7 linked regions of the Homo sapiens genome follow. The protein of the gene in region 1 purifies or fractionates together with the protein of each later gene. This does not show direct contact. Each region holds a gene or a part of one and is shown in the gene's direction. Other genes may lie near its edges.

Region 1 (3,061 bases):
GAGGTGGGGACAAATTGGCAAAAAACAAAAGAAGTGGATTAAGACCAGGGGTAGGGAGATTAGAACACCCAGTGGAGCATTGCTGATGGGACAGGGCTTGGTCTGTCACGGCCAAGGAGGCCTGCCGTCCCCTGGGCCAAGTCACCTCTTGGGGTGGAAGTAGGGGAGCTCCACTGCCTTTCTGAGCTCCCTGGCGTGCCCTGTGTCCCCACAGACCGGCCAGGCCTCATGAACGTTCCACGGGTGGAGGCTATCCAGGACACCATCCTGCGTGCCCTCGAATTCCACCTGCAGGCCAACCACCCTGATGCCCAGTACCTCTTCCCCAAGCTGCTGCAGAAGATGGCTGACCTGCGGCAACTGGTCACCGAGCACGCCCAGATGATGCAGCGGATCAAGAAGACCGAAACCGAGACCTCGCTGCACCCTCTGCTCCAGGAGATCTACAAGGACATGTACTAACGGCGGCACCCAGGCCTCCCTGCAGACTCCAATGGGGCCAGCACTGGAGGGGCCCACCCACATGACTTTTCCATTGACCAGCCCTTGAGCACCCGGCCTGGAGCAGCAGAGTCCCACGATCGCCCTCAGACACATGACACCCACGGCCTCTGGCTCCCTGTGCCCTCTCTCCCGCTTCCTCCAGCCAGCTCTCTTCCTGTCTTTGTTGTCTCCCTCTTTCTCAGTTCCTCTTTCTTTTCTAATTCCTGTTGCTCTGTTTCTTCCTTTCTGTAGGTTTCTCTCTTCCCTTCTCCCTTGCCCTCCCTTTCTCTCTCCACCCCCCACGTCTGTCCTCCTTTCTTATTCTGTGAGATGTTTTGTATTATTTCACCAGCAGCATAGAACAGGACCTCTGCTTTTGCACACCTTTTCCCCAGGAGCAGAAGAGAGTGGGGCCTGCCCTCTGCCCCATCATTGCACCTGCAGGCTTAGGTCCTCACTTCTGTCTCCTGTCTTCAGAGCAAAAGACTTGAGCCATCCAAAGAAACACTAAGCTCTCTGGGCCTGGGTTCCAGGGAAGGCTAAGCATGGCCTGGACTGACTGCAGCCCCCTATAGTCATGGGGTCCCTGCTGCAAAGGACAGTGGGCAGGAGGCCCCAGGCTGAGAGCCAGATGCCTCCCCAAGACTGTCATTGCCCCTCCGATGCTGAGGCCACCCACTGACCCAACTGATCCTGCTCCAGCAGCACACCTCAGCCCCACTGACACCCAGTGTCCTTCCATCTTCACACTGGTTTGCCAGGCCAATGTTGCTGATGGCCCCCTGCACTGGCCGCTGGACGGCACTCTCCCAGCTTGGAAGTAGGCAGGGTTCCCTCCAGGTGGGCCCCCACCTCACTGAAGAGGAGCAAGTCTCAAGAGAAGGAGGGGGGATTGGTGGTTGGAGGAAGCAGCACACCCAATTCTGCCCCTAGGACTCGGGGTCTGAGTCCTGGGGTCAGGCCAGGGAGAGCTCGGGGCAGGCCTTCCGCCAGCACTCCCACTGCCCCCCTGCCCAGTAGCAGCCGCCCACATTGTGTCAGCATCCAGGGCCAGGGCCTGGCCTCACATCCCCCTGCTCCTTTCTCTAGCTGGCTCCACGGGAGTTCAGGCCCCACTCCCCCTGAAGCTGCCCCTCCAGCACACACACATAAGCACTGAAATCACTTTACCTGCAGGCTCCATGCACCTCCCTTCCCTCCCTGAGGCAGGTGAGAACCCAGAGAGAGGGGCCTGCAGGTGAGCAGGCAGGGCTGGGCCAGGTCTCCGGGGAGGCAGGGGTCCTGCAGGTCCTGGTGGGTCAGCCCAGCACCTGCTCCCAGTGGGAGCTTCCCGGGATAAACTGAGCCTGTTCATTCTGATGTCCATTTGTCCCAATAGCTCTACTGCCCTCCCCTTCCCCTTTACTCAGCCCAGCTGGCCACCTAGAAGTCTCCCTGCACAGCCTCTAGTGTCCGGGGACCTTGTGGGACCAGTCCCACACCGCTGGTCCCTGCCCTCCCCTGCTCCCAGGTTGAGGTGCGCTCACCTCAGAGCAGGGCCAAAGCACAGCTGGGCATGCCATGTCTGAGCGGCGCAGAGCCCTCCAGGCCTGCAGGGGCAAGGGGCTGGCTGGAGTCTCAGAGCACAGAGGTAGGAGAACTGGGGTTCAAGCCCAGGCTTCCTGGGTCCTGCCTGGTCCTCCCTCCCAAGGAGCCATTCTGTGTGTGACTCTGGGTGGAAGTGCCCAGCCCCTGCCCCTACGGGCGCTGCAGCCTCCCTTCCATGCCCCAGGATCACTCTCTGCTGGCAGGATTCTTCCCGCTCCCCACCTACCCAGCTGATGGGGGTTGGGGTGCTTCCTTTCAGGCCAAGGCTATGAAGGGACAGCTGCTGGGACCCACCTCCCCCTCCCCGGCCACATGCCGCGTCCCTGCCCCGACCCGGGTCTGGTGCTGAGGATACAGCTCTTCTCAGTGTCTGAACAATCTCCAAAATTGAAATGTATATTTTTGCTAGGAGCCCCAGCTTCCTGTGTTTTTAATATAAATAGTGTACACAGACTGACGAAACTTTAAATAAATGGGAATTAAATATTTAAGAGCTGACTGGAAGCTGACTCAGTTACTTGCATGTTTTTCCTGGGGCTTACAGGGCTCCACGCCTCCTCCACATCCAGTACTGGAGGGCAAAGGAGGCTTTGGGCTCCAAAACCCTCCCCTGCCTCCACCTCGCTTTGCTCACCGCTTGTCAGTCAGGTGGACGACTATGCCATTTCCGCCCTGCAGAGAGAATTTGGGGTGTGAGGGGACAAAGGACTTGTGGTGCCCTGGCCTCACCTGGTGGAGCACTTGGGGTCTGGGGAAGGGGAAGGCCCCTGGAGGAGGCGGATGCAGGACTCAATAGATCAAAGCCAGTTTTTCATCACCACAAGAGATCACGGCTTTCCTCTCCTTTGCTGCCACCCAGCTCTCTCCTGTCTTTCCTGAGTGCCATCTCCCCAGCGGTCCAGTCGAGCCCAGCCCCCGGCAGCCATGGGTTTGTTTGCAGTGTGAGGCCAGGTCAGGGTGTGTAACAGAGTATGTGTTTAGTCAGGAAAAA
Region 2 (3,500 bases), on another chromosome or scaffold:
GCAATTTGGCCATTTTTTCTAAGTGTGCGGGTCTGGAGCCAGGTTTTGTCACTTAAATAATCATTTTATTTAAGCCTTTAAGCATTTTATTGGATTGGCTGCTTGTCTTTGTTTTAACTCATTTCTCTAGTTTTGATCAGTTCTCCGAAGCCAGGGTCAACCTCAGCACTGTCAACATTTACGGCTGGATAATGTTGGTTTGGGGAGCTGTCCTGCGCATTGTAGGATGCTTAGCGGCATCCCCAGCCTCTACCTGTTATATGCTAATAGCCCCCCCGACCCCTGAGTTGTGACAACCAAAAATGTCTACATGTGACAACAAATGTTCCCTGGGGAGGTGGGGGGAAAGTCACACCCACTCGAGAACCACTGTTTCTAAACCGCCCTTTTGTATTTTGCTATTTTATGTTCAACCTGAAAATGGTTAATCTGGTAATGTTACTATTCTATTAAGAAATTGATATGAAAATGTTACTGAGGCCAGGCACAGTGGCTTACGCCTGTAATCCCAGCACTTTGGGAGGCCGAGGCGGGCAGATCACAAGGTCAGGAGTTCGAGACCAGCCCGGCCAATACGGGGAAACCCCGTCTCTACTAAAAATACAGAAATTAGCTAGGTATGGTGGCAGGTGCCTGTAGTCCGGGCTATTCGGGAGGCTGACGCAGGAGAATTAGGAATCTAGGAGGCAGAGGTTGCACTGAGCCGAGATCATGCCACTGTACTCCAGCCTGGGCGACAGAGCGAGAGTCCGTCTCAAAAAAAACAAAGGTTGCCCGAGTGTGGTGGCTTACGCCTGTAATCCCAGCACTTTGGGAGGCCAAGGCGGGCAGATCCACCTGAGGTCAGGAGTTAGAAACCAGCCTGGCCAACATGGTGAAACCCTGTCTCTACTAAAAAGTACAAAAAATTAGCCAGATGTGGTGGTGGGTGCCTCTAATCCCAGCTACTCTGGAGGCTGAGGTAGGAGAATTGCTTGAACCTGGGAAGCGGAGGTTGCAGTGAGCCGAGATGGCACCACTGCACTCCAGCCTGGGCCACAGAGCAAGACTCCATCTCAAAAAAAAAAAAAAAAAGTTACTGAAACCAGAAAATCTGTTTTTTTTTAAACCATAATTTTTTTTGAGACAGAGTCTTGCCCTATCACCCGGGCTGGAGTGCAGTGGCGCGATCTCGGCTCACTGCAACCTCCGCCTGCTGGGTTCAAGCCATTCTCCTGCCTCAGCCTCCCAAGTAGCTGGGATTACAGGCAGGCACCACCATGCCCGGCTAATTTTGGTGTTTTTTAATAGAGACGGTTTCACCATAATGGCCAGGCTGGTCTCGAACTCCTGACCTTGTGATCCACCTGCCTCAGCCTCCTACAGCGCAGGGATTACAGGCGCGATGTCGGCTCACTGCAAGCTCCGCCTCCCGGGTTCATGCCATTCTCCTGCCTCAGCCTCCTGAGTAGCTGGGAGTACAGGCGCCTGTCACCACACCTGGCTAAGTTTTTGTATTTTTAGTAGAGATGGGGTTTCACCGTGTTAGCCAGGATGGTCAGCAAGACCCCATATCTAAAAAAATTTTTTTTAATTAGCCAGGTGTCTTAGACAAGGTAGAATGAATTAAAAAAAAAAAAATTAGCCAGGTGTAGTGGTGCACGCTTCTAGTGCCAGCTACTCAAGAAGCTGAGGTGGTAGGATCCCTTGAGCACAGGAGTCTGAGGTTACAGTGAGCCGAGATCATGCAACTGCACTCTAGCCTGGGTGGCAAAGCAAGACCCTGTCTCAAAAAAAAAAAAGAGTTCGGGTGTGCAAGAGAGAAGAAAAGGAGTTTGGGTGTGCAAGAGAGAAGAAAACGTTAATAGGCCAGTAAGTAGGTCTGTCAGCTTGATAATGACTTTTTTCAGTTAAGAAGAATGGAAGAATCTCATCAAGAAGCAACAGAGAAAGAAGTAGAAAGAATCTTGGGATTGTTGCAGACATATTTTCGAGAAGATCGTAAGTGTAACACCATTCAAAGTGGAGCAATTTGTATTTATCTGTTCACTGAGGTTACTTGTATTTAAAAGGCAATTTCAGCTGTATGTAATATTTGAATAAATACATATGCATTTTATGAGGATTCTTCTCCCCTTTAGAAATTTCATGTGAAAACTTTGAAGTTAACGTTTTCATTTTTATCTTTAAAAGATGGGGATTTTTTTTGTTACAAAATGAAATATGCCATTCAAGTGAGAAATGTCAAAAGTAGCTGTTCCACCTCCCCTCATTATAAAATGTAATGTGTATATTTTCAGATTATTTTATCAGTTTTATACACACCTACCTAAATAGTTTGTTTTGGCCGGGCGTGGTGGCTCACACCTGTAATCCCAGCACTTTGGGAGGCTGAGGTTGGGAGTTCGATACCCGCCTGACCAACATGGAGAAACCTCATCTCTACTAAAAATACAAAATTAACCGGGTGTGGTAGTGCATTCCTGTAATCCCAGCTACTTGGGAGGCTGAGGCAGGAGAATCGCTTGAACCCGGGAGACAGAGGTTGCGGTGAGCCAAGATCACGCCATTGCACTCTAGCCTGGGCAACAAGAGCGAAACTACATCTGAAAAAAAAAAGTTTGTTTTTTTCTTTTTTTCCAAGCTAATCATAATATGCACATTCTTCTGCTACGTGACTTTTCCATGTGGACATTCTTCCACATCATTTCATATAGATCTCCCTTGTTTTGTTCACTGATTCCCATTATATGGCTGTACTGTAAATATATTTAACAGATCCTCCATTAATGGATGATTAAGTTCCTTTTTTTTTTTTTTGAGACAGAGTCTCGCTCTGTCGCCCAGGCTGGAGTGCAGTGGCGCGATCTTGGCTCACTGCAACCTCTCCCTCCTGGGTTCACGCCATTCTCCTGCCTCAGCCTCCCAAGTAGCTGGGACTACAGGCACCCGCCACCACGCCTGGCTAATTCTTTTGTACTTTTAGTAGAACCTGGGTTTCACCGTGTTAGCCAGGATGGTCTTGATCTCCTGACCTTGTGATCCACCCACCTCGGCCTCCCAAAGTGCTGGGATTACAGGCATGAGCCACCGCGCCCGGCCAAGTTCCTATTTTTTTTTTTTTTTTTTAGGAGACAGTCTCACTCTTTCGCCCAGACTGGAATGCAGTGGCACCATCTCAACTCACTGCAACCTCCACCTCCTGGATTCAAGCAATTCTCCTGCCTCAGCCTCCTGAGTAGCTGGGATTACAGGCGCACGCGCCACCACATCTGGCTAATTTTTTTTCTGTATTTTTAGTAGAGACATTGTTTCGCCATGTTGGCCAAGCTAGTCTTGAACCCCTGACCTCAGGTGATCTGCCAGCATCGGCCTCCCAAAGTGCTGGGATTACAGGTGTGAGTGCCATGCCCAGCTGGATGATTAAGTTCTTTATAGCATTTTACTCTTGTATAAATTGCTGAAGTAAAAAATCTTAGTATGTAATTTTGTGCAGTTACACTTGTATTTCTGTAGCACAG
Region 3 (3,500 bases), on another chromosome or scaffold:
GGCACCTGGAGCTGCCTGCCCCGCTGCAGCAGTCAGCACGTCTGTGCGCAGTGGCTGGACCCCACGCTCACTCACACACGCCTCGCTGTTCCACGCCTGACTCGCCCTTGGCAGGCTTGGGACCCAGGCTGGTAGTGTGAGCTGAATGCAGCCTGTCAGGCCAAGTGGGTGAAACAAGACCAGTGGGCCCAAGCAAAACTTGGGCAAAGGCGCCACCGGCCACAGAAGTTTCTGGCCAGAAAATCAACACCCCAAAGATCCTGTAACATTTTCATTGATATTTACAAACATGTAACAGTGAATAGTTCTCTAGTTATGTGAAGGCATACACATTCTGACAGAAATTCTGATTTTGGGAGTAGCTTTGCCAAGGTTCCTTTCTGTTTTGCAAAATGACAATGATTAAACTCACTTAAAGATTTTTATTGAATGATGACCAGTAGTTAAGCAGTTTATTATAAAAAATATTTTATTGTTACTTGTGCAGGTGTTCAAAGCTGAAACAGGAGAGAAACTTCTAGAAATCAAGGCTCATGAGGATGAAGTGCTTTGTTGTGCATTCTCTACAGATGACAGATTTATAGCAACCTGCTCAGTGGATAAAAAAGTGAAGGTAGGAAAATCTTTTCCTCTTGAGTTGTAATCACAACAGAATTCATTTTATTTTTCCATGATCATGAGACCAGAGTAAGTAGAGTTAAAGGACTCTCACCTGTTGATCTACTAACCTGATTCATTGTAAATTAACACTATCTGAAAATTCTTTACTTTTTTTTAAAGAGACAGGATTTTGCTCTGTGACCCAGGCTGGAGGGCAGTGGCATGATCATAGCTCACTGTAAACTCCAATTCCTGGGCTCAAGTGATCCTCCTGCCACAGCCTTCCAAAGTGTTAGGATTATAGGTATGAGCCACTGTGCGTGGCCTGAAAATTCTTTATTTTTAAACACCAGCAAAAATGCCTAGGTTGATCACCTCAGGATTAAACAAGCAGTGGGGAAAAGCAATGACAAATTAGTGAGTTTGTCTTCCATTAATAGACAAGTCCATGGGTTAAATATCAGTTGAAATCTTTGAGTGCATTGTGATTAGGAGTGTTGCTGCACAAACTTGGGGATTCCTGTTGTAAGATACAATTTTAAAATGCAACCCCAATTTTTTTAATTTGCTTATGAACTGGCTTATATATTCAGTGGAAAACCAGGTGGATGAACAAACTAATAATTACGTTACTGGTCTAAAAACATAAATAGAGAAAAGTAAACAGAGTAATTTTTACTTATTTATTTTGAGGCAGAGTCTTGCTCTGACACCCAGACTGGAGTGCAGTGGTACAATCTCGGCTCACTGCAATCTCTGCCTCCAGGATTCAATTGATTCTTATGCCTCAGCCTCTTGAGTAGCTGAGATCACAGGTGTGCACCACCATGCCCAGCTAATTTTTGTAGTTTTGGTAGAGACAGAGTTTTGCCATGTTGGTCAGGCTGGTATTGAACTTCTGGCCTCAAGTGATCCGCCTGCCTTTGACTCCCAAAGTGCTGAGATTATAGGCATGAGCCACTGTGCCCCGCCAGAGAGTAATTTTTATTTTTGTTAAGTATTCTCTTGTTCCTAAATTTGGCTTCTACCAGGAGCATTTATACTAATATAGAATTCAAGAGAAACTGAAGGCTTGTGGGGGTTATCACTGATATATGGAAGACAGACCTTACTTTAACCCTTTTTCAAAGGGGTTAAATCTGGAGTACTGGATGTAGCTAGGTGGAGTGGGCAAGAAATTTGCCTTGGGTGTTTTCCTGAAGTTTTCACCTACTGGAAGAGGGCTATGGAATGTCCAGACTAAATTTGAGACCTTGGAAAAATCTACCTCTTGATAGATTGGACTCGTGGCTTAACCAACAGTTAATTCACTCTGTAGTGTCTACTCTGACTCTGAGTCAGACTTGGAGGTGGCCACTGAGGGCAGTTCTAAAGTCAGAGCTACATGGAGTAAAAGGAAATAATAATGAGTTTCTGTTTTCTAAGCCAGAGGTAGAAATACCTATTAAAGAACTTTAAAATAAGATAAACTCTCTGGACCTCTGGGGATTCTAATCAGTGCTTTGATAACATACAAAGGAAATGCCAAAGGACATTAGTACCTCTAAAAAGTCAAAATCCCAGTGAAGGTTCATTAGGTAATTTATTTCTTTTGTTTGTTGTTATATGGCATAGACTGCTTAGTTGTCTTACATAGTAACTAGAATGATGATTAATTTTTTTGTTTTTTTTTTTTTTTTTTTGAGACGGAGTCTCGCTCTTTCGCCCAGGTTGAACTGCAGTGGCGCTATCTCGGCTCACTGCAAGCTCCGACTCCCGGGTTCATGCCATTCTCCTGCCTCAGCCTCCCGAGTAGCTGGGACTACAGGCGGCCGCCACCGCGCCTGGCTAATTTTTTGTATTTTTAGTAGAGACGGGGTTTCACCATGTTAGCCAGGATGGTGTTGATCTCCTGACCTCGTGATCTGCCCGCCTCGGCCTCCCAAAGTGCTGGGATTACAGGCGTGAGCCACCGCGCCCGGCCTGATGATTACTTTTTACTGAAAACTGAACACTATAAGAGGCTATAAATACTACACACTTTGTCATATTACATTATCAATTTCCTGCTACAGCTTGCAGGGTTAAGTGTCGATCCCGTTTACAGAAGAGGACGCAGATTCAGAGATGAAGTCTCTTGCTCAAGCTTACATTAAACTGGGAACAGTAATAGGGTTGAAAGCTGGGTTTCTCTCAGACTATAAAACCTTTATTTTTTTTAACTAAGCAATCTGCCTTTACTTATTTATATGGTACCTTGAAGTCCATAGAACACTTGTCATGTTCATTATCTCATTTGATATCTTAAATTGTGTGGGAGAGGTATAGATATCCCCATTTTACAGAAGAGGGAACTGAGATGCAGGTAAGTTAGGGATTTGTGACACACAAGTCATAAGTGGTAGAGCCAGCTCTTGGGCTCAACCCTTCTGACCAGAAATCTATTATGCTAACCTCTTTAAAGCACTTCTCTGCCTGCTTTCATTCATATAAACATGTGAAATCTTGCCCTTAAGAAATGTCATGTGTTCATGACACTCTAGTTATGCTATAGGTACATATATGTATATTTGCAAATAATTTTTTTTAAACATTAAGGCAAAATATTGCCATATTTTAGAAAGGGGAGAGGTTTCATTAGCATCTTGTCCAACTAGGAAAATCTGCTATGACAGGATAAGATAGCATTTGCAAAGCAATGGACATTGCTTTGCCCCTCTGTTCTCCCTTTGAAAATAATGGATATTTGTAAATTTTTTCTCTTTTCTCTTTAGATTTGGAATTCTATGACTGGGGAACTAGTACACACCTATGATGAGCACTCAGAGCAAGTCAATTGCTGCCATTTCACCAACAGTAGTCATCATCTTCTCTTAGCCACTGGGTCAAGTGACTGCTTCCTCAAAGTAAGTGTGGATATT
Region 4 (3,500 bases), on another chromosome or scaffold:
AAGTGATCCGCCCACCTCCACCTCCCAAAGTGCTGAGATTACAGGCGTGAGCCACTGCGCACGGCCAGTTTTATTTATTTGTTTTTATTATAAAGTTTTTCTTGTAGAGACAGGGTCTTGCTCTGTTGCTCAGGCTGGTCTTGAACTCCTGGCCTCAAGCGATCCTCAGCCACCCAAAGTGCTGGGGTTCCTACAGGTGTGAGCCACTATGCCTGGACCCAAGTTGCTGGTTTTAATCCCAGCTCCAGGTCACACACAGTGGCCACCCCATAAGTGGAGTGCGCGTTGCCAGGGATGCAACTGTGGATGCCAGGACAGGTTGGCAGCTTCAGTAGTCCTTACGTCTTCCACAGCTTCGGTAGTCTGTACTTCTTCCACACTGTAGAACCATCTGTGGCTCCCAGCTTCTCCCACCCACCCCGTTCTCAAGCATACCTTTCAATGTCCTTTGTGCCCCGGCCCTGCCCCTTTACTCACCTTCCTCTCCACCCTGGGGCTCTCTGAACTTCTCATGCTTCTCTGTCAAACCCAAGCTCCAAGGTTACCCCTTCCCTGGAGGCCAGGAAGGGTGCACCTGTCCGGCCTCCCCACCTAGACAAGAGTCACACAGGCCTGGCACCAGCCCTCTCCCCAGTAGCTACGTGCTGTTCTCTGAGCTTCAGTTCTCTTGATCCTAGAGGGGGTCCGAGTGCTTTCTGGGCAGACTGTGGTCATTCAAACCCTCTGAGTTCCCACCCATCTGCTGGAGGCTCCAGTTCATTCATTTGCTATATCTTTTTTTTTTTTTTTTTTTGGGATGGAGTCTCGCTCTGTTGCCCAGGCTGGAGTGCAATGGCACGATCCCGGTTCACTGCAAGCTCCACCTCCCAGGTTCAAGCGATCCTCCTGCCTCAGCCCCCCTAGTATGTGGGATTACAGGCACGTGCCACTATGCCCAGCTGGTTTTTGTATTTTCAGTAGAGACGGGGTTTCGCCATGTTGGCCAGGCTGGTCTCACACTCCTGACCTCAGGTGATCCACCCACCTCAGCCTCCCAGAGTGCTGGGACTACAGGTGTGAGCCACTGCGCCTGGCCATTGGCTAGATCTTTATTGAGGGTCTACTGTGTGCTAAGCCTATGCCAGACTTGACCTGCCCCATCTCACTGAGGCCCATAATGTGCCCCAGGAAAGGTCCTGCAGCTCCCAGGTCACAGATGGGGAGGCAGAGGCTGCAAGAGGTAAAGAATAGGTAAAAACTGAGGGGATAGCAGCACTCAGAGAGGCTGAGGCAGGAGGATCCCTCGAGCCTAGGAATCGAGACCAGCCCGGCCAACATGGCGAAACCCTGTCTCTACAAAAAAAAAAATACAAAAATTAGGCATGGTGGCACACTCCTGCAGCCCCAGCTACTCTGGAGGCTGAGGCAGGAGGATTACTTGAGCCTGGGCGGTCGAGGCTGCAGTGAGCTATGATCTTGTCACCGCTCTCCAGTCTAGGCAACAAAGCAAGACCCTGTCTCCAAAACAAAACAAAAATCATGGGCTGGGATTCAAACCCAGTTTCTCTGGTGGGTCAGCAAAGAAAATTTCAGATTCCAAAGCTTGAGGGCTGGGGGTGAGGGGAGGCAGCCCTGTCTGGGAGACAGGCAAAGTGGAGACCCAAAAGCACAGGCGTCTCCCTCCAGCCGGCCAGCAAAGGTGCTCTAGGGGACCTCCGGCCCTGCTCCTGCTGAGACCCCAACATGTACCCTCCTTTCTCACCCCGCTTGCCAGGCACCCTGGGTGAATCTGTGCTCCGTGGCAGCCTCTCCCCCTGCATGTTCCCAGGGACAGGAACCAGGGCAGGTGCTTGGTCATGGTTGGGTCTTCAGTGTCTTGCCAGGGCCTGTACACAGAAGGTGTTCTGTGGCTAATGAATGAATGAATGAGTGAGTGATGTTGAAGGCAGGGCCTGGACTGGAAGCTGCTCAGGGCTCGCTCTCTCTGCTGTCGGCACAGGCTAAGGCTAGTGATTTTAGGTTGTTCCCCTCAGCTGGGGGCGACCCCTGGCTCACTGTCTCCCCTCCTGTCCCTTGTTCCTGGCTGCAGCCCCAGAGGCTCCTCTTCTCCTCCCATCCCCGCAGGCCCCAGGTTTTCCCGACAGCTGGGGACAGTGCTGGGGTGTTGGTGGGGACCATGCCATGGTTTTCCTGTCCATACACTGCAGAGCCCTAGGAAGAAAGGCTCTGCTAGGAAACCTCCACACTGCAGACCCAACTGAGAGTTCTGGCGTTAGTACAGTGTACATGTTCCCTTCATTCCCCGAGAGGTTTTTTTCTTTTCATTTTGAGACAGGGTCTTGCTCTTGTCGCCCAGGCTGGAGTACAGTGGCTCAGTCTCGGCTCACTGCAGCCTCCACCTCCCAGGTTCAAGCAGTTCTTTCACCTCAGCCTCCCGAGTAGCTGGGATTACAGGTATCTGCCACCACCACGCCAGGCTCATTTTTGTATTTTTAGTAGAGACGGGGTTTCGCCATGTTGGCCAGGCCGGTCTCGAACTCCTGACCTCAGGTCATCCGCCTGCCTCCACCTCCCAAAGTGCTGGGATTACAGGTGTGAGTCACCACGCCTAGCGGTTTCTTGTTGTTGTTGTTTTGTTTTGTTGTTTTTGAGACAGGGTCTGGTTCTGTTGCTCTGTCCTGAGTGCAGTGGTGTGATTGTAGCTCACTGCAGCCTCAACCTCCTGGGCTCAGACGATCCTCCCACCTCTGCCTCCCAAGTAGCTGGGACCACAGGTGCGCACCAACACACCCAGCTAATTTTCTTTTCTTTTCTTTTCTTTTGAGGCGGAGTCTCACTCTGTCGCCCAGGCTGGAGTGCAGTGGTGCAATCTCGGCTCACTGCAAGCTCTGCCTCCCGGGTTCAAGCGATTCTCCTGCCTCAGCCTCCCGAGTAACTGGGATTACAGGCGCCCGCCACCACGCCCGGCTAATTTTTGTATTTTTAGTGGAGATGGGGTTTCACCATGTTGGTCAGTCTGGTCTCGAACTCCTGACCTCGTGATCCACTGTGCCCGGTCCACACCTGGCTAATTTTTTTTTTTTTTTGAGACGGAGTCTCACTCTGTCGCCCAGGCTAGAGTGCAGTGGCGCGATCTCAGCTCACTGCAACCTCCATCTCCCAGGTTCACGCCATTCTTCTGCCTCAGCCTCCCAAGTAGCTGGGACTACAGGCGCCCACCACCACACCCGGCTAATTTTTTGTATTTTTAGTAGAGACGGGGTTTCACCGTGTTAGCTAGGATGGTCTTGATCTCCTGACCTCGTGATCCACCCATTTTGGCCTCCCAAAGTGCTGGGATTACAGGTGTGAGCCACCGTGCCCGGCCACACCTGGCTAATTTTTAAAAATTTTTTGTAGAGGCCGGATATGGTGGCTCACACCTGTAATCCTAGCACTTTGGGAGGCTGAGATGGGAGGATCACCTGAGCCCAAGAGTTCCAGACCAGCCTGGGCAACATAATAAGACCCTGTCTCTGCAG
Region 5 (3,500 bases), on another chromosome or scaffold:
ATCATTATTTTGTATGTTGGTTTTTAAAAATTTCATAAAGCTATAAAAAGATACTTGGTCAGATAAAGTTTCCTCTGCTTTTAATTTTAATAAAGTATTATTATGTATATGATTTCTTTTTACCTATTATATATATGCATCTATTGTTTTCTCACTGGTAAATATGGGACAGACATTTTGTTAGAAGGTTAGAAGTGAGTTAAATTTTCACATTCCTAAGGATACTTTTGTCTCGGGTTGTTGAATACATTTTAAAGTGTTTATAATAATCACTTCAAAATATTTAGGTAATTAACTGTAAATTATGTTTTGGTATTCTCCAGGGACAATGGCCTTAGAGCTATTGAGAATTTGATGCAAAAGAAGGGGAAATTTGATGACATACTGTTAGAGACCACTGGATTAGCAGACCCTGGTAAGAAGTGAGATTATTAATAACCAGAATATAGTTCTGTGATATATTGTAAATAGATGTATTAGAGGAATATCTAAAATGAGTATTAAAGCTTTTGTTAGTATTAAACCAAAAACTTTTTTTGGTTTAAAAGAGGAAAAGTACTCGTTTGTCATTTTCTTTGGCAGTTGAATGAATGATCAGAGTATTTCTTGGTGCTTTTAAGCTGTTAATAGAATTGGAAGTTTTATTGATTGATTTAGGATTATTTGTAAGAACAGAAGTTGTTAAAAATAAGGACATGTAGGAAGAGCAGAGACGTTCTACTTCTAAGTACAGTTGTCCCTTGGCATCCATGGCGTATTAGTTCCAGAACCTCTGAGGATACCAAAATCTATTAATGTTCAAGTCCCTTACATAAAATGGTGTAGTATTTGCCTATAACCTATGCACATCCTCCCATATACTTTAAATCATCTGTAGATTACTTATAATACCTAATACAATGTAAGTGCTGTGTAAGTAGTTATTATACTGCATTGATAAGGTAATCATGACAAGAAACTCTAAACTCTACTATGGAAAGCTACACAGAGTCAACCTGTTTCTCACAATGGGTTTCTGTTACCTTCTTACCAAGCTCTAATTCTTGATAAAGTCTGCTTATTTTCCCCAAATAACTTTTAGATAAAATCTTTATTTTCAGTTTGCATAAAAGTTAGTGCTTATTCTGTGAATCTGACCCATACCATTATTTTCTTTTTGATCTGGGTCTCTGGCATTGGGGCGATTTGTAAAACTATATTAAAGTATTTGGGGGTAATTTACTAAACAGGTCATAGTTGTCCAAAAGAAATATTGAAGTATCCTGAGAGTTCAAATGTGATCAGTGGTTATTGTACTTAAAACAATTACGTAGTAACATCATCCCCATGTTTTCAAAGTAGTATTGAATTAGGCTATTTTGGTCCTTATAGTAGGCATGGGTTTTCATACCTTTCTGATAAATCTGACTGATGATAGGACTTGGACTAATATGTTGGCGTTAAATATTATTTGAATCTGGTAAGAAAGAATATATTGTATGCTTTTATTAGAAATAGCAAATATCAGTTTATTTCATCATAGCCAGTTTTGCCATTTTATAGACAAAAACTTGATACTTTTGAGAGTTTAATTAAACACTATTCAGCTTTTCAGAGGAAGAAAGAAAAACTAAAGATCACAGAGAAAGCTTTTATACAAATTGTAGTTATAAAAAATGTTAATGTTTCTTGCTTCTAACTTTCTTTACAATAAAGATTTTATTGTTTGGGTAAAGATGGAACATTCATTGTAAAAAAATTTAAATACCTAAAAAATACAAAGAAGAAAGTTGAAAAGTAATCATCTCACTATTGTGATATACAAGTAAGGGCTGGGCATGGTGGCTCATGTCTGTAATCCCAGCACTTTGGGAGGCTGAGGCAGGTGGATCCCTTGAGGCCAGGAGTTCAAGACCAGCCTAGCCAACATGGTGAAATCCAGTCTCTACTGAAAATTCAAAAACTAGCCAGGCGTTGTGGCGCACCCCATAATCCCAGCTACTCAGGAGGCTAAGGCATGAGAATCGCTTGAAAGCTGGGAGGCGGAGGTTATGGTGAGCCGAGATCACGCCACTGCACTCCAGCCCAGGCAACAGAGCAAGACTGTATACACACACACGCACATGCACACGCACACACACACACACACATTCATACACACACACACAAGTAGGTAAATTTTATTCCAGGGATCTCTCTATGCCAGTGCTACTTGGTAGTATGTTGAATGGCAGCCTCAGCCTCAGCTGGGAGCTTGTTAGAAATGCAAATTCTTGACCAACCCAGATCTACTGAATCGGAATCTCTAAGGGAGGGGGTCAAGCAAGCTGTTTTTAATAAGCCCTTCAGGTGATTCTTATACTGTACAGCCATACCGCAGGGATATTGTGGGCTTAGTTCCATATCACTGCAGTAAACTGAATATCACAATAGAGTGAGTCACACACATTTTTTTGTTTCCCATTGCATATAAAAGTTATGCGTTTTGGCCGGGTGTGATGTGACAGGCCTGTAGTCCCAGCTACTTGGATCACTTGAGCTCAGGAGTTTGAGGCTGCAGTGAGTCATGATTGCACCACCGCACTCCAGCCTGGATGACAGCATGAGACCCCATTTCTTAAAAAAAAAAAAAAAAAAAAAAAGCTGTGTTTATACTATACTGTAGTCTATAAAATGTGTAATAGAATTGTCTAAAAAACATACATACCTTAATTAAAAATATTTATTGCTAAAAAATGCTAACGATCATCTCAGCTTTCAGCAAGTCATAATCTTTTTGCTGGTAGAGGGTCTTGCCACAATGTTGATGGGTGCTGACCAATCAGGGTAGTAGTTACTGAAGGTTGGGGTGGCTATCGCAATTTCATAAGATAATAATGAAGTTTGCTGCATTAGTTGACTCTCCCTTTCATAAAAGATGTCTCTATAGCACATGATGCTATTTGATAGCATTTTACCCACAGTATGACTTCTTTCAAAATTGGAGTCAGTCCTCTCAAACCCTGCTTTATCAATTAAGCTTCTGTCATATTTTAAATCCTTTGTTGTCATTTTGACAGTGTTCATAGCATCTTCACCAGGAGTAGATTCCATCTCAAGAAACCACGTTCTTTTCCCGTCCATAAGAAACAACTTCTCATTAGTTAAAGTTTTCTTATGAGATTGCAGGAATTGAGTCACATCTTCAGACTCCCCTTCTAATTCTAGTTCTCTTACTGTTTCCACCATATCTGCAGTTATTTCCTCCGTTGAAGTCTGAAATCCCTCAAAGTCATCTGTGAGGGCTGGAATCATCTTTCAAACTCCTATTCATGTTGATACTTTGATCTCCCATGAATCACGAATGTTCTTAATGGCATCTAGAATGATGAATCCTTTCCAGAAGGTTTTCAATTTACTTTGCCTAGATCCATCAGAGGAATCACTATCTATGGTAGCTATAGCCTTATGAAATATATTTCTTAAATAAGACTTAAAAGTCAAAGTTACTCCTTGATCAGTGGGCTGCAGAATGGATGTTG
Region 6 (3,500 bases), on another chromosome or scaffold:
CAACAGCTACACGCAGCCATGAGCCAGGCGCCGGTGAAAGAGAACATCCCCTACTCCTGGGCCAGCTTAGCCTGCGTGAAGGCCCACCACTACGCGGCCCTGGCCCACTACTTCACTGCCATCCTCCTCATCGACCACCAGGGTAAGGCCTGGGGGGTTCGGGAGTTTGGCGAGGGCTGTGGTCCAGCTGCCCCAGGGGCGATTCTGAGCTGAGTGAGAGCTAACTGCCTTCCCTGGAGATGCTCACAGGCTGAAGGCAGAGGATGGGAGTGACCCATGACTGAGGCAGCTGCCGCACAGGCCATGGTGGGGTTAGGGGTTATAAGCTTCTTTAGAGGGAGGAAGAAGAGGCACCTTTAATTCTGCCTGGGTGCAAGAGGATGAATTTTCACCTGGAATCTAGAATCTAAGGGAAGGCCAAAAATGCTGGCATCAAGATAAGTAACATTTTAAGGTAATATTTTAAAAGAATCAAAATTAATGCAGGCCAGGTGCTGTGGCTCATGCCTGTAATCTCAGCACTTTGGGAGGCCAAGGCAGGCAGATCATTTGAGGTCAGGAGTTTGAGACCAGCCTGGCCAACATGGTGAAACCCTGTCTCTACTAAAAATACAAAAATTAGCAGGGCATGGCACGTGCCTCTAATCCTAGCTACTCGGGTGACTGAGGCAGGAGAATGGCTTGAGCCAGGGAGGTGGAGGTTGCAGTGAGCCGAGATTGTGCCACTGCACTCCAGCCTGGGTGACAGAGCAAGACTCCATCTCAAAAAAACTAATAATAATAAAATAAAAATTAATGCAAAAAAAATCTGTGATGATCGGAATTTTATTTTATTTTATTATTTTATTTATTTTATTTTATTGTTAGAGATGGGGCTGGAGTGCAGTGGTATGATCATGGCTCACTGCCTTCTTGAACTCCTGGGCTCAAGCGATCCTCCCAATTCAGCCTCCCAAATAGCTGGGAATACAGGCACATGCCACTACACCAGTTAATTAAAAAAAATTTTTTTTTTATAGAGATGGAGTCTCACTATGTTGCCTAAGTTGGTTTCAAACTCTTGGCCTCAAGCAGTTGTCCTGCCTTGGCCTCCCCAAAGTGTTGGGATTACAGGCATGAGCCATGGTGCCTGGCCAGGGATTTTTGATCTAATGAGTACTAATCCAGGCAGCCTCCCAAGGAATTAAAAAGACAGCCTCTGGAGCCAGACTTCCTGGGTTCATATCTCAGCTCTTCCATGAATGAGCTGTTTTACCTTGGGCAAGTTACTTAGCTGTCCTCTGCCTCAATTTTCTCATCTGTAAAATGGGTATATGGAGAGAACCTGCCTCACAGGCTGTCATGAAAACGAAAACGAAGGGCCTGTACGCAAAGCTCAATAATGCTTTATATACTGTAGGTTCTCTGAAAGTGTGAGCCGCCACTCCTAGTACTATATAGTCTATTAGGTGAGACAAGATGTGAAAACAAATAGAAATACCATATAGTGCCTCGGTGATTGCTGTAGAGACACAAATGCAGCAGCAGGTGGACTCCATGGTACAGTCATGGATGGCTTCTTAGAGGCAGTGACATTTGAGTTCAACTTTTCCATCTGCACAGGAGGGAAGGGTCAGCCTAGAGGGAGTAAAGTGTCTGAGCACAGAACAGAGGCGGAGGGTGCTGGGGAAGTGGAGAGTGGTTTTGTGAGGTTTGAGAGCAGGATGCGCGCCACGAAGGGTGTGGTTGAAGCAGGAAGGGGCTCTGCTGCAGGTGTGCAGGCCCGCAGAGGGGTGCAGGCCGGGCATGACAGGGTCTGGGCTATGCCAGGAGGTTCTGTGTGGTGGGTGAGTTGGAGGAGGTAGCGTGTGGGGGCTCAGGGTCAAATTACAAACCTTGCCGGGTGTGGTGGCTCACGCCTATAATCCCAGCACTTTGGGAGGCCGAAATCGGTGTGGATCACGAGGTCAGGACCAGCCTGGCCAAGATGCTGAAACCCCATCTCTACTAAAAATACAAAAATTAGCCGGGCATGGTGGCATGTGCCTGTAATCCCAGCTACTCGGGAGGCTGAGGCAGGAGAATCGCTTGAACCCGGGAGGTGGAGGTTGCAGTGAGCCAAGATCACACCACTGCACCCAAGCCTGGGTGACAGAGCGAAACTCCATCTCAAAAAAAAAAAAAAAAATTATGAACCTCTGGAGTGTGACTGGTCCCAGTGAGCAAGAGCTTTGGGGTAGCCAGGCATAGTGGCTCACACATTTGATCCCAGCACTTTGGGAGGCTAAGGCAGGAGGATCGTTTGAACCCAGGGGTTTGAGACCAGCCTGGGCAATGTAGCAAGACCTTGTCTTTACAAAAAAATTTAAAAATTAGCCTGGCATGTGGTGGTGCATGTCTGTAGTCCTAACTACTCAGGAGGTGAGGTGGGAGGATCACTTGAGCCCAGGAGTTCAAGGCGGCAGTGAACTATGATTGTGCCATTGCACTCCAGCCTGGTAACAGAGTGAGACCGTCTCAAAGAAAAGAAAACCTTGAGGGTTAGACGGCCTGGGGTGTGTCCGGGGGCAGAAAGGAGACCCATGATCCCAAATGCCTTGTGAAACTGCAGAAAAAAGGAAGCTGGAGACATGGTAGAGAAATCTCTACGTGGGTCTGTGGCCAGGTCCATGAGAGGGGATTTAACCTGTGGTTCTCTTTGCAGTGAAGCCAGGCACGGATCTGGACCACCAGGAGAAGTGCCTGTCCCAGCTCTACGACCACATGCCAGAGGGGCTGACACCCTTGGCCACACTGAAGAATGATCAGCAGCGCCGACAGCTGGGTGCGTGTCCCCCTGCACCCAGATGTGGGCCCCACTTGGTGCCCAGCTGGTCCTGCTCACAGCCAGCCACAGAGAGGTCCCTGAAGAGGGCCCGGGAGAGGGGGGTGTTCCGAGTCATCGTGGCCACTTTGGGTTCAGAAGTCATGAGGCGCGGTCCTGAGCCTCAGAGGGCTTCCCAGGCTGTGTTCTCATGGGTTCCATAGCACCCAGGCCTCCCACTGTGGAGCCAGGACTTTAACCATCTCCCTTGGGGTCCACAGGGTGGCATGTGTCACGCTAACAGGGAAGGAGACGTTTGTTGATTTCCTTATGCATGGCTGAATTACCAAGAACACCTAATGACTGGTAATGCAGTGTCCTGGTTTGGTCTCTGCCATGTCTCAGTGTGAATATCTCTTCCCATGTGCAGACCTCACCTCCACCACCCTAACCTGCCCCTCTGCGCACCACCCATGCACACATACGCAGCTTCTCCGTCTCAGTGATGGCAACTCCCACCCCTCTAGGTGCTCAGGCCAGAAACCTTGGACTCACTCTCCACGCTTCTTTTCTTTCCTCCTCTTTCCCATCCCCTCCCCTCTGCTCCCCTCCCCTCTCCTCCCCTCTGTTCCCCTCCCTTCCCCTCCTCTCCTGTTCTCTCCTCTCCTCTTCCCTCCCCTGTTACCCTCCGCTCCCCTTCTCTCTCCTCCTCTCTTCT
Region 7 (3,500 bases), on another chromosome or scaffold:
ACGAGGATACCTGTCTCCAGATCTCAGTAAGGTACGGAGTAACTGTCCAAAAGCCATGAAGAGATTAATGGCAGAGTGCCTCAAAAAGAAAAGAGATGAGAGACCACTCTTTCCCCAAGTAAGTAAAAGCTTCATGCTATCCAAAAGAACAGACTAACATTCATAGACAGATTTCTGAGCACTTTTTTGGGCACACAGTGTGTATTTCATGAGTTTGGATTCTATGTGCAGACTCCAGACAAGAAAACACATTAAGATGGCTTCATGAGGGTTGAGCAGTGGCACACCTAGAAATTTTGGGTCCTAATACAAAATATTCAGAAAGACTTTGCATTTGTCCATCAGTTCTCAGACTTCTCAGTCTTTGAACTCTTTTACACATTTAAAAATTATCGAAGACCCCCCCCCCCACAAAGAGCTTTTGTTTATATAAGTTTTAATTCCTTATTAGAAATTAAAACTATTTTTTAAAATATTAATGAATTAAACATAGTAAACCAATATGTTAAATAATATTTAGAAAAAAACAGTTCTATTATCTAAGAGAAAAAAATTAGTGAGGAGTTGTATTGTTTTACTTTTTTTGCAAATCCCTTTGCAAAAAGAAGACAGCTGGATTCTCCGCTTTTGCACTCACATTGCAATATCTCACATCATGTCACCCCTAAAAACTCTACTTAACGCTTGTAAAATAATGACAGTAAAAAAGGCAAATGATATCTTATTGTTATTACAAAAATAGTTTTGACCTCGTGGATCCCCTGGTGGTCCACGGACCACATTTTGTGAACCACTGCTTTATTTCTTCTTGGTGGTAAACAGATTCAAGCTTTCCTTTAATACTGGGTCTTTTTGAGGGGCATTTCTGCCTGATGCAGAAAAAGGAAAAGGCAGTAAGGCATTTGTCAGCTCAGCCTGCCTTTACCTAATTCTTGATAACTCACTGCTTTTTTTTTTTTTTTTCCATATTGGAAGGATAAAGCCTTAAGTTAACAAATTTCAAAAAGAACTGTAACTAAGGCCAGGTGTCGTGGCTTACAAATCTCAACACTTTGGGAGGCCAAGGCAGGCAGATCAGTTGAGGTCAGGAGTTCGAGACCAGCCTGGCCAACATGGTGAAAACCGTCTCTACTAAAAATACAAAAATTAGCTGGGCATAGTGGCAGGAGCCTGTAATCCCAGCCACTCAGGAGGCTGAGACATGAGAATCGCTTGAACCCAGGAGGTGGAGATTGTAATGAGCTGAGATGACACCACTGCATTCCAGCCAGGGCAACAGAATGAGACTCTGTTTAAAACAAAACAAAACAAAAATATCTAAATACCTCAACTAGCTTACAGAGTTTAGCTGTAGTAGATATTATAATATAAATGCAATGTTTTCTGATACTTAGGGAGCTCCTGATAGCACTGGATAAATATGCCTTGATGAATCAGTACAGTTTCAAGTGGGAAGTGCTATTTCCCATAGTAACCCTGCTACCATAATTACTGGAGTGTTCATGTATGAACTCTTAGGCCTTTGAATGCCCAGTCCTAGCTGAGTAACTCAGACAGAAGTCAATGTTACAGGAATTAGATTCACTCATCCTTTATTTTTAAATCTAAAAAATGTTATTCTTCTCTAAAGAATGAAAGAAGATAAAATTGATGGTTTTAACAAGTCTGTCAGGGTGTTGCCTAAGAAAAGAAAGGGAAAGCTAAGTGGTTGGCTGGGTAGATATAAGTTTCATTTATCAGGTTTCAAAGTTACTGTTCCTTTGAGGAAGAGTTTTTATTTTTTCTTTTTATTTTTTTATTTGTTTCTCTAAGTCAGGAAACCTCTGGGTTGAGACTGTCCTGGTGAGAGACAAGTGCTGCTGAGCAGCTTCAGCATGACCCTGTCCCATGTTCTCTTTTCACGTCATGGTGCTCGGGTTCTTACTTAGAATGTTTATTGACATTAATAATGCAAAGTACATCCTTAGGCCCACTTTTTAAATGATATTAAAAGGGGCAAAATGCTTAGCTCCATACTTCTAAATATAACATTTCATTAATTACATGGTTTCAAAAACTGAAGTGCATATGTGAACTTTCCAGATTATTGGAGGCTATCCCTTTAAAGTGTTATTTTGAAATTTTTGTTACAGGATATCTTTTCACACCATACTGTTATATGCCACATAAATTTTAGATGGCTGAAGATCTATATGTTTTATAAAATATGAAATCATTTTTATAGTTTTGAGGTAGGAAAGGCTTTCTTAATAGACAAAATTCAGAAGGAAAAAATTAGCAGATGTGAGTACATTAAAAATTTTTAAACTTCTATATAGAAAAATAACATTGAAAGATAAAAAGAATAATTGTAGCATATATAACAAAAAGTAAATGTTTATAATATACAAAGGACTCCTCCAAATCAATAAGTAACAAACAATAGAAAATGGGCAAAGGGAATATGAACAGGTGATTCACATAATAAATACAAATGGTGAATGAACTTAGGAAAAGGTGTAAATATTTCCATGGCAGTCAGTAAAATGCAAAGACACAACAGTGAAATATATTTTAATTTCGCCTCTCAGGTTGGTAATATCCAGCACTGGGAACAATGTTGGGAAGTGAGGAGGAGCATTCTATGTAAAATTTTAAAGGTTTGGTGGAAGGCAGCATTTTGGAAGACCTTGGTAGAATCCATAAATTCAAAATACTTCTAAAAATCTGTGCTATGTAACCTATTTCATAAGTATTCAGATATATATAAGAATGTTTACTATAATAAGAAAAAGACATTAAGATTAAGTTAGTTTTGTATTGATGACATGGATATTGGTGAGAGAAAAAGAAAACAAGACAGAAAACAAAATGTAGTATGATACCTCATTTTTTTTTTTTATAGGCTGGGCCTGTTCTGTTGCCCAGGCTGGAGTGCAGTAATATGATCATAGCCCACTGCAGCCTCAAACTCCTGGGCTCAAGCGATCCTCTCACCTCAGCCTCCTAAGTAGCTGGGATTGCAGGTGCCTATCACCACACCCAGCTAATTTCTTGTGGTGGTGGTGGTGGTGGTTGTAGAGATAGATTCTCACTATGTTGCCCTGGCTGGTCTTGAACTCCTGGCCTCAAGCGATCCTCTCGCCTCAGCCTCCCAAAGTGCTGGGATTACAGGCGTGAGCCCCAGTGCCCAGCCTGATAACCACTTTAAAAGGTTAAACAGAGGCCAGGCACGGTGGCTCACGCCTGTAATCCCAGCACTTTGGGAGGCCGAGGCAGGCGGATCACCTGAGGTTGGGAGTTCGAAACCAGCCTGACCAACATGGAGAAACTCTGACTCTACTAAGAATACAAAATTAGCCAGGCGTGGTGGCACATGCCTGTAATCCCAGCTACTCGGGAGGCTGAGGCAGGAAAATCATTTGAACCCAGGAGGCGGAGGTTGCGGTGAGCCGAGATCGCACCATTGCACTCCAGCCTGGGCAACAAGAGTGAAATTCCATCTCCAAAAAAAAAAAGTG

Evidence for each region.
Region 2: the proteins of PPARD (region 1) and NSMCE4A purify together in Homo sapiens (affinity purification with mass spectrometry; 2 studies listed by BioGRID and IntAct, with this or other methods). This does not show direct contact.
Region 3: the proteins of PPARD (region 1) and APAF1 purify together in Homo sapiens (affinity purification with mass spectrometry; one large-scale study listed by BioGRID and IntAct). This does not show direct contact.
Region 4: the proteins of PPARD (region 1) and MEX3D purify together in Homo sapiens (affinity purification with mass spectrometry; one large-scale study listed by BioGRID and IntAct). This does not show direct contact.
Region 5: the proteins of PPARD (region 1) and ZNG1C purify together in Homo sapiens (affinity purification with mass spectrometry; one large-scale study listed by BioGRID and IntAct). This does not show direct contact.
Region 6: the proteins of PPARD (region 1) and RHPN2 purify together in Homo sapiens (affinity purification with mass spectrometry; one large-scale study listed by BioGRID and IntAct). This does not show direct contact.
Region 7: the proteins of PPARD (region 1) and BRAF purify together in Homo sapiens (pull-down; one large-scale study listed by IntAct). This does not show direct contact.

What each region holds. Positions count from the first base shown.
Region 1 is NC_000006.12:35,425,618-35,428,678, forward strand, and holds the end of PPARD (peroxisome proliferator-activated receptor delta), read left to right. Parts: intron 1-214; coding exon 215-462; 3' UTR 463-2,561; downstream 2,562-3,061. UniProt on the Homo sapiens protein: Ligand-activated transcription factor key mediator of energy metabolism in adipose tissues. Receptor that binds peroxisome proliferators such as hypolipidemic drugs and fatty acids.
Region 2 is NC_000010.11:121,961,718-121,965,217, reverse strand, and holds part of NSMCE4A (non-structural maintenance of chromosomes element 4 homolog A), read left to right. Parts: intron 1-1,889; coding exon 1,890-1,980; intron 1,981-3,110; coding exon of another isoform or gene 3,111-3,217; exon of another isoform or gene 3,218-3,465; intron 3,466-3,500. UniProt on the Homo sapiens protein: Component of the SMC5-SMC6 complex, a complex involved in DNA double-strand breaks by homologous recombination. The complex may promote sister chromatid homologous recombination by recruiting the SMC1-SMC3 cohesin complex to double-strand breaks.
Region 3 is NC_000012.12:98,679,790-98,683,289, forward strand, and holds part of APAF1 (apoptotic protease-activating factor 1), read left to right. Parts: intron 1-487; coding exon 488-613; intron 614-3,353; coding exon 3,354-3,485; intron 3,486-3,500. UniProt on the Homo sapiens protein: Oligomeric Apaf-1 mediates the cytochrome c-dependent autocatalytic activation of pro-caspase-9 (Apaf-3), leading to the activation of caspase-3 and apoptosis. This activation requires ATP. Isoform 6 is less effective in inducing apoptosis.
Region 4 is NC_000019.10:1,561,826-1,565,325, reverse strand, and holds part of MEX3D (RNA-binding protein MEX3D), read left to right. Parts: intron 1-3,500.
Region 5 is NC_000009.12:68,248,483-68,251,982, forward strand, and holds part of ZNG1C (zinc-regulated GTPase metalloprotein activator 1C), read left to right. Parts: intron 1-323; coding exon 324-415; intron 416-3,500.
Region 6 is NC_000019.10:32,998,889-33,002,388, reverse strand, and holds part of RHPN2 (rhophilin-2), read left to right. Parts: coding exon 1-142; intron 143-2,683; coding exon 2,684-2,803; intron 2,804-3,500. UniProt on the Homo sapiens protein: Binds specifically to GTP-Rho. May function in a Rho pathway to limit stress fiber formation and/or increase the turnover of F-actin structures in the absence of high levels of RhoA activity.
Region 7 is NC_000007.14:140,736,430-140,739,929, reverse strand, and holds part of BRAF (serine/threonine-protein kinase B-raf), read left to right. Parts: coding exon 1-118; intron 119-3,500. UniProt on the Homo sapiens protein: Protein kinase involved in the transduction of mitogenic signals from the cell membrane to the nucleus. Phosphorylates MAP2K1, and thereby activates the MAP kinase signal transduction pathway. Phosphorylates PFKFB2.